Homo sapiens: one gene and its partners. The protein of the gene in region 2 purifies or fractionates together with the protein of the main gene of each other region. This does not show direct contact. Each region holds a gene or a part of one and is shown on either strand. Other genes may lie near its edges. The genes, in order: MYH1, TMEM45A and RBM6.

The links.
Region 1: the proteins of TMEM45A (region 2) and MYH1 purify together in Homo sapiens (affinity purification with mass spectrometry; one large-scale study listed by BioGRID and IntAct). This does not show direct contact.
Region 3: the proteins of TMEM45A (region 2) and RBM6 purify together in Homo sapiens (affinity purification with mass spectrometry; one large-scale study listed by BioGRID and IntAct). This does not show direct contact.

What each region holds. Positions count from the first base shown.
Region 1 is NC_000017.11:10,511,927-10,515,582, forward strand, and holds part of MYH1 (myosin-1), read right to left. Parts: intron 2,970-3,656; coding exon 2,942-2,969; intron 2,199-2,941; coding exon 2,084-2,198; intron 1,988-2,083; coding exon 1,895-1,987; intron 1,764-1,894; coding exon 1,700-1,763; intron 1,040-1,699; coding exon 941-1,039; intron 859-940; coding exon 755-858; intron 621-754; coding exon 482-620; intron 267-481; coding exon 148-266; intron 63-147; coding exon 1-62. UniProt on the Homo sapiens protein: Required for normal hearing. It plays a role in cochlear amplification of auditory stimuli, likely through the positive regulation of prestin (SLC26A5) activity and outer hair cell (OHC) electromotility.
Region 2 is NC_000003.12:100,565,528-100,569,183, reverse strand, and holds part of TMEM45A (transmembrane protein 45A), read right to left. Parts: intron 363-3,656; coding exon 217-362; intron 1-216.
Region 3 is NC_000003.12:50,072,644-50,076,299, reverse strand, and holds part of RBM6 (RNA-binding protein 6), read right to left. Parts: intron 1,128-3,656; coding exon of another isoform or gene 1,121-1,127; exon of another isoform or gene 1,106-1,120; intron 1,100-1,105; coding exon 970-1,099; intron 1-969. UniProt on the Homo sapiens protein: Specifically binds poly(G) RNA homopolymers in vitro.

The DNA of each region.
Region 1 (3,656 bases), on a different chromosome or scaffold from region 2:
ACCATCCACAAGAACATCTTATCGTAGACAGCTTTGGCCAGAGCACCCACTGCATTGTACACCTTCACAGATAAAGTTTGTTGGTGTTATTAAAGACATGTCATGAAGGCCTGGGATGTGTGTGATTCATTGAGGTCATGCACTTACCTGCTGCACAGTTTGACCTTTGGTGACATACTCATTGCCGACCTTGACCCTAGGGTAGCAGAGGGCTTTGAGCAGATCTGCAGAGTTCAGATTTTGGAGATAGGCTGCCTTGTCAGCAACTGCAGAAACATAATTCAGATACCTAATATGACTTACTCTGGGACCCACAGTTCAAAGGGGCATAGTATTGAGTAAATAACTTTGTAGAAAGTCTGTGTGTGGGTACATCTGAGTATGTCCATCAGGAGCTCAGCTGTAAAGAAGACTTGAATTTTGGAATGGACATTTTTGCCTATATTCTCTCATTAAACCCAGATGGAGATTCATTTGGTACCTTCAGTGCCATCTGGCTCAGCTTGCTCCTCACGCTGCTTTTGCTTGAATTTCATGTTCCCATAATGCATCACAGCCCCTGTGAGCTTATAGATGGACACTCTTTCATCTGAAGTAAAGCCCAGAATTTCAATGGCACTCTACCATGAGAGATGAGAAGACAAAGATTAGGGCACAAGAGAATTTATACTGTATCTTTTACACACATATAGATGGCTGTTATTGCCATTCCCATGCATAATGGATTTTAAATTAAAATTCATGTATAACTTACATCTGTAGCCATCAACTCTTCTTGGTCATCAATGCTGGGCACTGTGATCTCCCCTTGACTGACGAAGGCATAATCGTATGGGTTGGTGGTGATCAGGAGCATTTCTGGGTCACAGAATTCAGGGCATATGTTTTACATTAGAAGATAGTACAGTGACAATCTTCTAGCTATGAATTTATTTCTTACCAATTAGATCTGGCTTCTTGTTAGACATGATCTGATAAAAAATATGATAGCTTCTTTCAGCCTTTAGCTGGAAAGTAACTCTAGACTTCTCCAGAAGATCTGCAACGGATAGTAGACATCAGATTATGGGGAAAAATTACACAATGTCCTGGAGTGATTTGAGGACTTGGGATCATTAGCTAAATCTCACTGGCCTCTTGAGATTTCAACTGAATGTTCCTGTGAAGTACCACATATTATGTCTCTACAAACACTATTGCAGTTCCTCCTGCCTCCTGGGAAAAAAGTGAAATATGCTTGGCTCAAGATATTCACTTCTCATACAGAAGATCCTTGACATTTGGAATATAATTGAGTCCTGAGACTCCCTCTGCAGGGTCCTGTCGCCATATAATAGAGGGACTACTAAAAGCAACAGTATTAAAGCTCAGACTAGGAATAAATCACATATCCTCAATCCCTGGACAACTTGTTTACTTCTAGTGTTAGTTTTTTCTTAAAAAAAAAATTGAAATCATTCTGAGGCTGGAATACTTTGGACATGCCCAGCAGTTCCTGGCAGTTCCCACAGAAGCATTACCTCATGACTGGAGTGGGTAAAGCATACTGTGGGCTATGGATAAGACTGACATTAACCACAAGCATGTTTGGCAGCAGACTGGTGCTTTACAAGCTCCATGTTCAGCAGGAGCTGCAAAGTGTTCCTCCAAACCAATATTTGTCATTCTTGGATTCTATTTAGGAGGTCCTGTTACTCACATGTTTCAATATCAGCAGAAGCCAGTTTCCCTGTGGTACCGAAGTGGATCCTGATGAATTTACCCTTGTAAGTAAAAAAAATGATGTTATACCCAAAGCTTGAAGTACGTAGTGGGGATGCCACTGAAATAATTCAGACATGCTTTCTCTGGCATCTAAAGGCAGAGAAGACCCTTTGGCAACCAAGAGACTTACAAAGCGAGAGGAGTTGTCATTCCTCACGGTCTTGGCGTTGCCAAAGGCCTCCAGTAGGGGGTTGGCACTGATGATTTGATCTTCCAGAGTCCCCTGCAAAGGCAAGAGCAGTCCTTGCATCTGGGGCTTGGGAATTTCCTACCTGAGAGTCCCGACAGAGCCTGGATTCTGACTAACAATCAGACTCACCTGCATTTTGCCAGAAGTAACTTCTTCCTTCTTCTTCTCCCCAGTAACTGCAATTGTTGCAAAGTACTGGATGACACGCTTGGTGTTCACAGTCTTCCCTGCGCCAGATTCTCCGCTGTCAAAGACCAAACGTATGAGAAATTAAGCACTGTGACAAATGAAACTACAACTACCTCATGGCTTTGTCTTTATATCTCTATTAGAGAGCCTTTTACATCTTTCTTTTCAGCCTACATATAGCTCGTATTATTTCTTTTGCTTTGCACTGGCAAGAAGTAGAAAAAATCAGTCATTGTTCATTTAACACGTATTTCTTGAGTGTTTATAATGTGTCAGCTTTTTTTCTGGGTGCTGAGGCCTGGGCTTGAGGGGTCTGAAAAGCAGCTACTCAGCACCTCTGTAGTGAATGGAACAATTAGTAGGAAACTCTATGAAACGTGCATGTGTTTTTCCATTTCCTCGGACTAGAGACATGGCTCAAGTTTGGTCTTTGAAGGAACAGACATTCTCTAAGTGGGCCTTAAAAATGAACCACTAGTAGTATTTCCAAACTGTTGTACCTTTTGAAGGCTGTATGCTGCTCATTGCACTATACTGGGTTCCAGCCCAGCTCATTTTACACTTTCTACACACCAAAAAGTTCTGTGGAACTTTCAAGACCAGCAAATGAGGTGATTTAGAACATTATTATTTTACATTCTAATGCAATGTAAACCTTATAATAAAGCTAAACCAATATCTAGTTCCAGGTTGATCATTCAGTGCTTTAGTAGAGAACATTAACTAATTTCTTTTTTTGGTTTGTCATTTTTCCAGTAAGAACAAACTGCCAATAAATCTCAGAATAGGAATACATACGTGATCAAGATAGACTGATTCTCCCGATCTAGAAGAAAAACAGTGGAAAATCAGCATATGTATCAGTTACACAAACAAAACTTTCTATAGTGAAACAGGGCATTTGAGTATAAGTGTCATGTATTCAGTGGGGTTTTTCAATATATTATGGTAAAGTTATGGGTGTGTCCTGCTGGTTTAATATAAAGAGCAGTATTCTCCAAAGCTAGATACATTCCGTAGTTGTCATCTGTAGATTTCAATGGCATGCTATCTGCTAATTAATGCATATAGCTGAAAAATGCATAATATGCTAAAGGCTTGGACTATTATTTAATAGATTGAAATAGTGTTAATCAAGCCATGACTGAGATTTTGTTTCTAAATGTGTCAGATGACTTCACAAAGAGAAAAAATTTACTATCTTATGGCCACAGACTAACTTCAATATAGCCCTAACTTCGATCAGCCTTCCCCAAAGTGTACCATTGTGTTAAAGAAAGATGAGGTAAGAGAGGATGCCTCAATCAAAATAAAATCTTTCTAAGGGGGGAAAACAATTTCTGTTTATATGTGTGTAGCCCCAAAACATCATCTTCATTCAAACAGAGGATATTATATCTGAGATGTACTCTGATAACTTTAAAGAGATGACAGTACTTGTAAAAGAATCTAATTTATAATTAACAAGAAACTGAGGCACCAAAAGGATTGAACTCCTATTTTTCATTTCTAT
Region 2 (3,656 bases):
CACAGCTGAGGCACTGTTGAGTGACTAACTTTAAACCAGCATTTATTCTTTTTACTGGGAATTTTTGTGTTTGCAGATAATGTTCTGCTATGCTACCCTGTCTTATGGGATGATAAGGAATGAAATACCCTTTTGAATTTTAAATTCAATACCACTGAGTCTTGATAATCACATACCAAGGAACAGAACTTCCATTAACAGAAATCGCTAACTTACCAGGTAATGAAAGCATAATTCATTCCAACGATGACAATGGTTACTGCATAATGCCAACAAAAGCATATGGTGAGAAACAAAATATTTTCATGATCCATCAGATCCCATGCAGGACCTCCACTGGGGGGATACAGGACAAATCCAATCTGTAATTTAGAACAAAAAGCATATATTAAAATAACCAATCACATTCCCAAAAATGGTACATTTCAAAATACTTGCTTCCGAGGTAAATAACTAAGTTAACTCCAATTATCTAAGATGTAACAGATAAAACATCAGGTTTTGCTGCCTGTTTTAGTAATATAGAGAGTCTCTAATATGTCATATTTTCATAAAAGTTTTAAAAGGACATTTAATGATCAGTTTTCAAAATATAAACAGTCATCTTGCTAGGAATGTCTGGACTTTAAGAGAATGTCTTGGGTTTCTACATTGTGCAGTTTCACTCTGTTATTTCAAAATTGGAGTACAAAAAGGTTTTAAAATAAATAAATGCCCACAGTTAACATTATATTTAATGGTAAAAGACTGAAATCTTTCCCCCTAATATCAGGAACGAGACATGGATGTCTGCTTTCACACTTCTATTGAATGTTGTACTGAAAATCTTAGCTAGAGCAATTAAGTTAAGATTTAGCTAGAGTAATTAAGCCGTTAAGAAAAATAAAAGGCATCCATACTGGAAAGAAAGAGGCAAAAATATCTACATTCACAGATGACATGATCTTATATATAGAAATTCCTTTAAAAATCCATTAGAAAACTATTAGGGCTAATAAATGAGTTCAGCATAATAGCAGGATACAAAATCAATATACAAAACAGTTGTATTTCTGTACAAAAGCAATGAACTCAAAAATAAAATTAAGAAAACAGTTCTGGCCAGGCGTGGTGGCTCACGCCTGTAATCTCAGCACTTTGGGAGGCCGAGGTGGGTGGATCATGAGGTCAGGAGATCGAGACCATCCTGGCTAACACGGTGAAACCCCATCTCTACTAAACATACAAAAAAATTAGCCAGGCATGGTGGCAGGCACCTGTAGTCCCAGCTACTCGGGAGGCTGAGGCAGGAGAATGGCGTGAACCCAGGAGGCGGAGCTTGCAGTGAGCCGAGATTGTGCCACTGCTCTCCAGCCTGGGCGACAGAGCAAGTCTCCGTCTCAAAAAAAAGAAAAAGAAAAAGAAGACAGTTCCATCTACAATAGCATTAAAAAGAATAAAATACTTTAAGAATAAATTTAATCAAGGAGGTTTAAGACTTGTACACCAAAATCTGCATAACATTGTTGAAAGAAATCAAAGATCTAAATAAATGGAAAGCTATCTCATAGTCATAGACTGGAAGCTTAATACTGTTGAGCTGGCAATACCACCCAAAGCAATCTACAGATTCAATGCAATTGCCATCAAAATTCCAATGTTCTTTTTTTTTTTTTTTTTTTTTTTGCAGAAATGGTAAAAGCTGATCCTGTAACTCATATGGAATTGCAAGGGATCCAGAATAACCAAAACAACCTTAAAAAAGAAAGCTGGAGGACTTCAATACTACAGAGCTACAGTAATCAAAACAACAGTGTGATACTGGCATAATGATAAACATTTAGATCAATGAAATAAAATTGAGAGTCCAGAAATAAACTCATATGTCTGAGGTCAATTGGTTTTTGACAAGGGTGCCAAAGCCATTCAATGGGGAAAGAACAGTCTTCAACAAATGGTGCTGAGATAACCGGGTATTCACATGAAAAAAAATGAATTTGGACCCCTACCTCATATATAAAATTAACTCATGTATAAAATTATATATATATAAAATGAACTCAAAATGGATTAAAGACCTAAATATGAGAGCTAAAACCACAAAATTCCTAAAAGAAAATAGGGAGAAATCTTCATCACTTGAAATTTGTTGATTTTTTTTAAGCTACGACACCAAAAGCACCATCAACCAAAGAAGAAAACAGATAAATTGGACTTCATCAAAATTAACTTTTGTGCTTCAAAGGACACTATTAAGAAAATGAAAAGACAACTCACAGCATGAGAGAAAATATTTGCAAATCATATATCCGATGAGATTATATCTAGAATATAAAAAGAATTCCTAAAACTTAACAACAACAAAAAATTTTAATGGGCAAAGGACTTCAAGAAACATTTCCCCAAAGCAAATATACAAATGGTCAATAAGCACATGAAAAGATTATGGATATCATTGTTCATCAGGGGAATGCAAATCAAAACCACAATGAGATACCATTTTTTATTCATTAGGCTGGCAATAATAACAATAAAAATAACAAATATTGGTGAGGATATGGAGAAATTGAAATCCTTATATATTGCTGATGGGAATGTAAAATGGATAATCTTGATTATCTGGATAATGAAGATAATAATACATGAAAATGAGGATAATAATATATCCTCAAAAAGGGCCATTGCAAGGAAAGGCCTAAGCACTGTAACTGACACATAGCCAATAAATGGTAGACATTTGTAGGAGTATCCATGATATTATCTTGGTTTTGAATTTCATTTAGTTCTAGAAACCTGAAATACATTCATCCATTTATCTATCTATCTAATTTTTTATTGGGATAAAATTCTGCAGCTACTGTGGCAACCGTTTTGCAATTCCTCAGGAAGTTAAATATAGAATTCCATATGACCTGGCAATTTCACTTCTACCCAAAAGAACTAAAAATAGGTATTCAAACAAAACTTGTACATGAGTGTTCATAGTAGAACTATTAATAATAGTCAAAAGATGAAAACAACCCAAATATTCAAAAACTGATATGGATAAGCAAAATGCAGTATACTCATACAAGGGACTATCAATCGACCATAAAAGGAATGAAGTACATGCAACAACATGGATGAAACTTGAAAACATTTATACTAAGTAAAAGAAGCCAGACACAAAAGTTCACATATATTATGATTCTGATTACATAAAATATCTAGACTAGACAAATATTCATAGAGACAGAAAGCAGACCAGTGGTACCGGGGGCTAGGAGGAGAGACGGGAGAGTGACTATTTTATGGGCCCAAGGTTTCCTTTCGGGGTGATGAAAATGTTTTGGAACAGATAGAGCTGATGGGGGCACAACATTGTGAATATACTAAATGCCACTAAATTGTACACTTTAAAAATATTAATGTTATGTTAGGAAAGTTTTATCCCAATAAACAATAAGTAGATAGAGAGATAATAGATAACTGGATGAATGTATTGCAGGTTTCTGGAACTAAATGAAATTCAAAACCAGGATAATATAATGAATAATCCTACAAATGTCTACCATGTATTGGCTATGTGTCAGTTACAGTGTTTAGGTGTCTCCTTGCAATGGCCCTTTTCAAGGATGTATTATTACCCTCATTTTAATGTATTATTATCCTTATTATCTCGATAATAAAATCGGGTG
Region 3 (3,656 bases), about 50 Mb from region 2:
CTGGCAGGATAATTTTTTTAAAGAATCTTTTGGCCGGGCACAGTGGCTCACGCCTGTAATCCCAACACTTTGGGAGGCTGAGGTGGGCGGATCACTTGAGGCCAGGAGTTCGAGACCAGCCTGGCCAACATGGCAAAACTCTGTCTCTACTAAAAACACAAAAATTAGCTGGGTATGGTGGTATGCACCTGTAATCCCAGCTACTCAGGAGGTTGGGGTGGGAGAATTGCTTGAACCTGGGAGGAGGAGGTTGCAGTGAGCTGAGATCGCACCACTGCATTCCAGCCTGGGCGACAGAGCAAGACTCTGTCTCAAAAAAAAAAAAAGAAAAGAATCTTTCATTATTAAACAAATACCCAAGATGAATTAAGGTGGGTGGTGATGCTATGATTGCAAGATACAGGCTTTAATACCAGAGATATGAGAAACTCGGTAGGAGAGAAATAAGCCAATCTCTTATGGTTGGCATTTTCAGAGGAGAAGCAAGCCAACACAAAATGGGTAATGTTTCCTCTTATCACCTTTTCTAGAGGCTCTTGAAATATGAGGGGCAAAGTCCTTCATGGGAACCAGAACAACATGCTCCTTAAATTTTAGCCACCAAAGACTTCCGCTGACAGTCCCTCTCAGAGATGCCTCTGTACCTTTCATTGCTGATTCCCTGGTTCTTTTGCCCAAATGATTCTTCAGTCTCAAACTGCCTCAGATACTGCTCTACTATTTACTCCATGTAAAAGTATGATGAAATCCATTCCAACTCCTTCCTTCTCTTCCTAACTCCAAACTGCAAAGGGCCCAGCCTGCCAAGCTATAACCCAGTATTCAAGGCTAAAGTGTTCAACTCTCATGTCCTATCCCAGCAGTAGAGAAAGCCCAGCAAAATGGCAAAGACATCACTCTAGGCCAGAAAGTGAAAGTTAATTACATTCCAGGTTCATGTCACCCCCCAAAAGATGGAAACCATTTTACCTCCTCTGATGAAGCCAATCCAGGATGGCCATATCCCAGGCCTGTCCCTTTCCTCCAGCCAGTAGCCTGTTGGACACAGCCTCCTTTGCTGCTAGTGTCGATATCTTCTTTATCAACAAGTTTACGATCACTGCAAAAGAAGCAGACACCATCACTTCCTTTTTTTTTTTTTTTGAGACGGAGTTTCACTCTTTTTGCCCAGGCTGGAGTGCAATGGCTCGAACTCAGCTTACTGCAACCTCTGCCTCCTGGGTTCAGGCGATTCTCCTGCCTCAGCCTCCCGATTAGCTGGGATTGCAGGTGCCCGCCACCACACCTGGCTAATTTTTAATTTTTTTTTTTTTCAGTAGAGACAGAGTTTCACTGTGTTGGCCAGGCTGCTCTCAAACTCCTGACCTCAGGTAATCCGCATGCCTTGGCCTCCCAAAGTGCTGGATTACAGGCATGAGCCACCATGCCCAACCTGACACCATCATTTTGATGAAGACCTGCTTATAAGCCTAATATAAAATCTCTGTCCTCTTGATTCATATCTGCCTCTTATTAAGTAAGTATATTTAACAGTACCTCTGAGTGCCTGATAGCTATGTTTTGTTGCTGGGTACACAGACTACTAAGATATGGCCCTGTTCACAAGAAAGGTCTCAAACATTATGTCAAGAGATGCTTATAGAACATTGAAGAGAGCTCAACCATGGATGTAGCAACAGTAGATGTCTGCTATAGAAATACAGTAGAAGGAATCACTTTGGGAGGCTGAGGTGGGCAGATCACCTGAGGTTGGGAGTTCGTGACCAGCCTGACCAACATGGAGAAACCCTGTCTCTACTAAAAATACAAAATTAGCCGGGTGTGGTGGCGCATGCCTGTAATCCTAGCTACTCGGGAGGCTGAGGCAGGAGAATCGCTTGAACCCAGGAGGTGGAGGTTGTGGTTAGCTGATATCGCGCCATTGCACTCCAGCCTGGGCAACAAGAGTGAAACTCTGTTTCAAAAAAAAAAAAGAAATGCAGTAGAAGGAACGAAAACTCTGAAGGGGCATCACCAAAAATGACAGGAATTTCAACAGGAAGATACATCTGAATTGGATCTCGAAATAAGGAGTTTGTGTAAGAGAAAAGGAGGACACAAGCAAGGAGACACAAAAGACAATTTGTCCAAGAGAGTAGTAGTAGAAACTGACAAAGGTAAGGCTGCTTGGTGGCCGGGTGCAGTGACTCACGCCTGTAATCCCAGCACTTTGGGAGGCCAAGGCGGGTGGATCACCTGAGGTCAGGAGTTCGAGACCACCCTGACCAACAGGTGAAACCCCTCTCTACTAAAAATACAAACATTAGCCCATAGTCCCAGCTACTGGGGAGGCTGAGGCAGGAGAATCGCTTGAACCTGGGAGGCGGAGGTTGCAGTGAGCCAAGATCGTGCCATTGCACTCCAGCCTGGGCGACAGAATGAGACTGTCTCAAAACAAAAGGAAAAAAAAAAAAGGCTGCATGGGGTCAGACTGTAAAAAACCTTGAACTTATTAAGCTAAATCATGTCTCTGAACCTCATCCTTCTGGCAAAAGTTGGAGCTCAGGCCTCCCTGTAGGCAAGGTATACGGTTTGTAAAAAGACAAGTTATAAGAGTAGATTTCTCTTTACAAAAGTCATTTTGGTGGCAGGGTAGAGAATGGACTGAAGAACAGTGGGAGCAAAGACTGGGAGTAGGAGTCCAGTGTGGAGGTGGAATAGAATGGGAGATGCTGTGGTTTAAATGTGTCCCTCAAAGTACATATGTTGGAAACATAATCCCCAATGCAACAGTATTGAGAGGTGAAACTTCAGGAAGTGATTAGGTCATGAGAGCTCTGCCCTCACAAATGGATTAATGCTGTTATTGCAGGAGTGGGTTCTCCTGATAAAATGATTAGTCTGGTTTCTTTCTCCCAACCCCCTCTTTTGCCTAAGCTCTCTTGTTCTTTTACTTTCCACCATGAGGTGACACAGCAAGAAGGCCCTCACCAGATGCAGCTCCTCAATCTTGGACCTCCCAGCCTCCAGAAGCATGAGCCAAATAAATTTCTGTTCATTATAAATTACCCAGTCTGTGGTATTCAGTTATGGTATCATAAAACAGACTAAGACAGGGGGCAAGACTTAATTAGGGATTTGGTCACTAATTGGACACAGGGGATAAAGGAGGAGGATGGATCAGACCATGTAGACAGTGATGCTATGATGCTGCTACTCTGAAATAATAATACAGGAGATTTGGACTTGTTAGACTGTGGTGGTGGTTGAGGCCATGGGTACCTTAGAAAGCCCAGGTCAAGAGGGTAGAGCAGCAAGACCAAAGAAGCACTGAGAGAAGAGTCCTAGAGAACACCTGGATTTATCCAGAAAAGGAAGAGGAGCAGAAAAGGTGACTGGAAAGGAGAAGAGCCAGGAGAATGTGGTATAAAGGGTGCTGAGAATAAAGAAGGGTCTCTTTCCGCACCCCACCTAAGCCTTGTCCCAGAAGACTCAAGGCCAAGGTGTCCTTCCTCCTGATGGCTGACTCCTTCACCTAGTCCTAATCCACTGTATTTCAAATTGCAGAGAATGACCCAATGGAATGTCACACTAAATGGTCCCACTGTAACAACTCATAAAAATGAAGAGAGACTAGACTTGAATAAAAATATCAGGGTTCACTGTACCTGGTAAGA